Regions from separate parts of the Homo sapiens genome. Here region 2 is linked to region 1. The links come from fine-mapping of genetic effects on gene expression. A gene starts in region 1. The other region holds a variant in brackets. All regions are shown on one strand. Distances are from middle to middle. Region 1 holds the start of MLC1 (modulator of VRAC current 1). Region 2 overlaps MOV10L1 (Mov10 like RNA helicase 1).

Region 1 (2,911 bases):
TGATGATGGGACATCAGCAGGCAGAGGGATGAAGGGCATTTTAGGAGCAAGAATTTGTTGGAAGATTGTATGAAAGAACAGGGCCTGTTCTAGAAACTAGTGTTGCCAACAGAAACTTGGGAGCATTTCTCAAGTGATGACTTATGATCTGGGAAGCTGAGGGATTTGCTCTGCAACCTCTGGTTCAGGGCAGCTTGTTTGTATTTCTAAGTGGAGAGCAACTTTTGAAAGAAAAAAATGTTGAAATCCGATTAACATTTTTTTCCAAACAAAAAGAAACACAGGAGGATTCGATCCAGTTGGACCCACTCCCACTAATCCCGTTTATCGCTTTAAAAGATAGTGAAGTTTGGGAGGTTTCTCAATCCATTAAAATGAGTTCTTGACTTCACAGATTATAGTTTTTGAAAATTATTTCTCATCCTTGCTTGATTGAAATGAAGACAACAGAACATTGGCTGTGGTGGCTGGCACAAAATTAACTAACCCTAAAATACTAGTATAGCTTAAACTTTCGTTTATTGCTAAAAATTTATCACTGCTGTTTCCTGTGGGGGTGAGGTTGAGCAAAGTGTTTTGAGCTGCATTTATGCGTACTTGACACTTACGCATTTTGATCGAGGTGATTTAGTGGGCATTTTCACTGGGACAGGGATGCTTGTATGTGTAATCTTACTAAAAGCTAATAAAAACTTACTAAAAGCTAATAAAAGCTTACTAAAAGCTTCTTGCTTGATTGAAACGAAGACAACAGAACATCCCATGGTCTGGAACCTGATGACTTTGCTCAAGTTTTAATGTGGGTTCATGGTTTAAGGAGCTGGTTTTTCAGAAACTTTAGTTTGAGCCTTTTTACAATGTGCACAAAGAACCCGTTGCTGTAGTTGTCAGGGTGCCAGTGTCTCTGGGCGACACACATTACTGTGGTTTTTCTCTGCTTGGTGAGCAGAGATAAAGGGGGCAGCAGGACCGGGCCCACCAGCCATCCGGGCTGCCCACGCAAACCACAGGGCCGAATCCGGAGCCGCCCAAGGCCACACAGCTAAGCCGAGTGCGTGAATGCTTATGTGACCGTGTGAAGGAGGTTCCCACCGTGTGGCTGTGGGGGATGGAAAAAGGCTACTTGGAAAGATGTAGAAGACCTTCGAGTAAACAGTTACGTTTCAGAAACAGAGCCTGCTCAGAATGTGTACTTGGTGGGATTCTATTCTTAGGGACGCTTCTTTCTTCTGAGAGACCCGAGCTCTGTGGCGAGTGGCACAGGCAGGGCCCCTTCCTTTCCTAGTTGGGTTCTGACAGCTCCGAGGCAGTGGTTTACACAACCAACACGAAACATTTCTACGATCCACCCGATTCCTCCCCTCATTGATATTCAGGAAGCAGCTCTCCTTCCCCTGCCTTCAGCTCAAGTTTGCTGAGCTTTTGTTTCATTTGTGAATACTTCTTGCTGGAAGTCCCTCACCCAGAGACCAGTGCTCCCAACGGCAGAGCAGCGGGGGAGGTAAGTGCTCAGACATTAAGCCGTTGAGTAGAGGCATGTTTTGCAATCTCTCGTTTAGCTACCAATTGGAGCAGTTTAACGTGCTTGAGTCCCCGGCGTGATGTGTTCATGGACGAAGTTGCCGATGGATGTTGTCAGGTGTTGCACCTGGAGGGCCCAGATGGATCAATGAGGCATTTAAAGTGTAGAATCTCACCCTGAACCCAGACTATTCAGGTCCGTTTTTCTAGGAAAGTTATTTCTTTTTCACTTTTAGATTCAAGTGCTCATTTTCTTCTTCAAATTTAGAGCACTTCAGTATGAACAATATTTCTTTTGTTAAAAAATATTTCTTGGAAACAACTTATTGAAGTTTCCTCAGAGTGGCCAAAGCCGATGATAATTTTATTCCAGATAAAGAACTGGTGACACGTGGCTGTACATTCAGCACAGCTGTGGTGTCCCCAAGTGCCATGACCCAGGAGCCATTCAGAGAGGAGCTGGCCTATGACCGGATGCCCACGCTGGAGCGGGGCCGGCAAGACCCCGCCAGCTATGCCCCAGACGCGAAGCCGAGCGACCTGCAGCTGTCGAAGAGACTGCCCCCCTGCTTCAGCCACAAGACGTGGGTCTTCTCTGTGCTGATGGGGGTGAGTAGCTCCACACTAAGCCCTTGGAGGGCCACGAGCATCTGGTCCCTCTGGTGACGGACTGCAGCGCCCTGGAGCCCCAGGTGGGACAGAGAGAGCAACTCTCAGACTAACCCTGCTGCTGCAGAACTCTTGGATGCCGACGAGCTTGTTTTGCTTGTGTTTTCACAATTATTTTTATTAATTTATGGGTGTCTGTTGTGCCAGCCTTGAGCTGCTCCAGGTTGTGGCTTAGTCCCACCAGGGTAGGGACAGTCCCAGGGCCATGAATGGGCCCCAGGAGTCTCCATGACCCTCGGCTCTGGGGGCCCAGGGTCCTCTGAGGGGTCACCTGCAAAGGTGGGAGGAGGCGTCTCAGGCCTTCAGGTCGGCCCTCACAGAGAGAACCTCAGGGACCTCCTCCTCCTAGGGAGGGCCTCAGGGGCCGGCTGGGAGGGAGCTGGGGAACAAAGGAACAGGTCTGGGGTGGACGGGCAGCGCCAGATGTCCGAGGGATTTCCCTGGGGTCCTGGCCATTCCCTGCACAGTCGTGGGCACAGAGATGATTGGAGGAGCCACTTGGGCCTGAGTGTGTGCAGCTGCTCAGAGCCATGCTGCAGGACAGGCCTCTATGCAGGGACCCCCGGTTCCGTGTAGCTTGGGCTGAGAATGAGATCCAGGCTGTGATTTCTCCCCTCCCTGTGCCCTGGCCTCCGCCGGCAGCCCCTGCAGCACCCACAGTGGTCCTGCCCACCTCCCGTGGCCTGAGCATGCCCCACCAAGACAGGCGTCTGCCTCGGAG
Region 2 (2,911 bases), 34 kb before region 1:
GCTATGGTGCCTCATCCCTCACGGCCAGGCAGTGACCCTCGTTATCCCAGCTACCTGTGAAGAAAACAAGCCAGATGAAGGTCTGAACCTGAGAAGGAACCTCCTGGCTTTGTCAGAAAACAAGAGCATTAGAAGATGCCAACACCCCACAGGCCATGAGACACTTCCTACCTCTGCAAGTAATGGCTGGAAAGTCAGGATGTCAATTTTTTGTTCCACACATTTTCTAAGTCTATCTGGGATTGGATATTGGGGAAGAAAACTTGGAAGTTGTCGTCTTGAGTTCCTTAAAAAATTAAGTTCACAAGTTAAAAATAAGTCTTTATCACCAGGTATCACTAGACATTCTTACCTAAACATCCTTTCCTATTTTAGGAAGACCAAAGTCCATCCATTTCCTGAGAAGAACTGATATATGAATAGCTGGTCTAAGGCAGTGGTTTGAAGCTTTCGTTTTAGCTCTGGGATCCTTTCCTCAAACAGTTCCCACAAGTGCTCTACTATTTGTAAACAGGTAAGTGTAGCTGCACAGGCTGTGGGAAAACAGGGCTGGAACCCCCAGAATCTCCTGGAACCAGGAGTTTGGAAACAGCTGTTTTTAACATTCTATGAGCTAAGCTCTTCCTACTATATTTGACATCAGGACTCCACCTGGGCCTATCCCTGCAAAGCACACATTAGGAAAAGGCTGCTCTGTCTGGGTCCTGCCTTCGATTTGTTTTTGTTTTGTTTCCCAGCCTGTGGTTTCTCTGGGGAAATTCAGTTTGTTCAGGATGAAGAACATCGCTGCTCTGGAGCCAAGCCCAATGCGGCAACAGAAACAATGGGAAAGGGACAGACAGGAGAGGAGAAGCCAGGAGAGAACAGGGAAACGAAAAGTCAGAGTGAGGTCGATAAAACTCAACTCAGCAAATAAGGATGTTGGTTGGACCTTTATCCCTCATTCCCTCCCAGCTCTCCATTTCAGTGCAGTCTCACCCAAGAGAGAAGCCCACATTGCTCTCCGTATTCCATTCACTGTCATCTCAATTTGGGTTCCACTGGCTCAGCCCTCAACAGGAGAAACGGGGTGAAGACATTCCCCATGGTTTGTGCTGAGGGTTATGTCAGCGCTCACATGCGAGGTGTATTTGGAAAGCATTGATTACTAACACGAACAAGGTAAAGGGAAACCAGGATGATCACTACAGGCTTAGGTCAACAGCCTGAACAGCTAACAGAACCATGTGGCCTCAACAGACACGCTGGATTAACAAAATGTGGTTCCTACCATGATGGGTGGCTAGAAACTTGGCTGGGAGTGTGCTGGCCTACAAAGCCCCCCAGAACAGATCTGCTAAGTGAACACTCTGCTCTAGCTAAGAGCCAAAGTTGCCTGGCACTGGGGGTCCTAGCAGGAAGTGCAGGACCTGTGACAGGCGGCCACGGATGGACAGCTCTGGAAGCAGGCACCCGCCAATGCCCGCGTGGGCAGGTCCAGACACCTGGTGCTCCAGGTGTGCTCGAGCCAACCCGGGTCAGGCACTCTGGGTCACTAACCTGAGTGGCAGGAAACTGATGTCCTTGTTTTAGATACGCTCCCACACAATATGTTAATATTCACGGGGAAGTAACTGACCAGGGGGTTAAAATCCTTGTGGCTGTTGCTCTGTGTATTTCACTCTTTCTGTTAAGCCAAATGATAACTAGAAAGCTGCTTGGTGTGTCACTAGATGAGAACCAGGGATCCTCCAAGGCTCCTGTCATTAAAACTCGATCCTCGGGGACTCTGCTCTGCCTGGCAGCCGAGGGACTTTCCTGCTCCTTTTC[T/C]GGGTTACATCCCTACAGCCCCTTGATGTTGAAACTGTGCCCCAAAGAGTTAAAGAAACCGATGACTAACAGAAATTCTTGAGCCTGCAGGATGGGTGATAAGAAACAACTCCAGCGCTGAGTCTCCCCCTGCTTATGACATCAAAGGACTGGCTGAGATCAGCTGGAACCAAGATGGACAACTGGAGTTTGTGCAGAGCTTACTGACGTCACAGCCTGGATTCCCACCGTGTTTCATGCGAACTCCCTCCGAACTGGCACATGTGACCCATGAGGTAGCATGAAGGGGTAACTATGCACACCCAAGGCCTTTCCAGACCTCCCTTTTCCTTCCACCAACCACCTATTAATCCCAGATTCTACCCACTAAACGTTTTCTGACAAAATTACTGCCTTAAAGCCAGCACAGAGAGACACATTTGAGCTTGACTCCTGTCTCCTTGGGGGTTGGTTTTCAATACAAAGCTTTTCTTTTCTCAGAAACCCACTGTCGTAGCAATGGCCCCTAGTGCATCAGGCAGTGAGCCCCTTTTTCTCAATAATAATATGCCCAGGGATCATGACTGCTTATTCGCTTACTGAGTGATTGCTTTGTGCCAGAAAACTGCACATTTTACATGTCTGACCTCATTCAATCTTCAAACCACACGAGGCAGGGACTATCATTTTACCAATGAGAACAAGGCTCAGAGTGGTTAAGAAACTTGCCCAAGGTCACACAGCTTCTTGGTGGTGGTGCTGTGATTCAAACAATGGTCTAACCTTAAAAGGTAAACAACCACATGATATTCTTCCCTGGTAACAGGTTTTCCCTTTAGTCTGCAACTAAGTAGAAGTCCATAATCCCTCATCTTGAACTGTAACTGGGGCAACACGTGATTTGAAATTCAGAATCTTTCAGTATTAGAAAAGTGACCCACCTCACCCTCAGGGAGGTCTGGGGTAGTAGCAGAGCTCAAACCCATCAGTTATTATAGCCGATGGAGGAAAAGTCACATCACACGGGACTAAGTCATTACACTTTAAAAAGCCTGCTATTCAGGGCTTTTTCGTTTTATAACTACAGAAGAGAACACGTGGATGTGAAGTGCTTTCCTGAGAC

The links.
Region 2: its variant is fine-mapped to the expression of MLC1 in blood mononuclear cells (TOPMed, PIP above 0.99). The same link has a PIP of 0.9 or more in monocytes.

Annotation. Positions count from the first base shown.
Region 1 is chr22:50,083,945-50,086,855 of GRCh38, reverse strand. MLC1 (modulator of VRAC current 1) reads left to right here and starts at 1,430. Exons shown (of 12, transcript NM_015166.4): 1 at 1,430-1,501; 2 at 1,895-2,130. The coding sequence starts at 1,954. RefSeq lists an enhancer at 1,158-1,782.
Region 2 is chr22:50,117,877-50,120,787 of GRCh38, reverse strand. It overlaps MOV10L1 (Mov10 like RNA helicase 1), which reads right to left. Exons shown (of 27, transcript NM_018995.3): 10 at 172-286. Among named protein-coding and RNA genes, the nearest start is that of MOV10L1, 29 kb to the right of the region's middle. The variant T/C (reference allele first, on the strand shown) is at 1,810.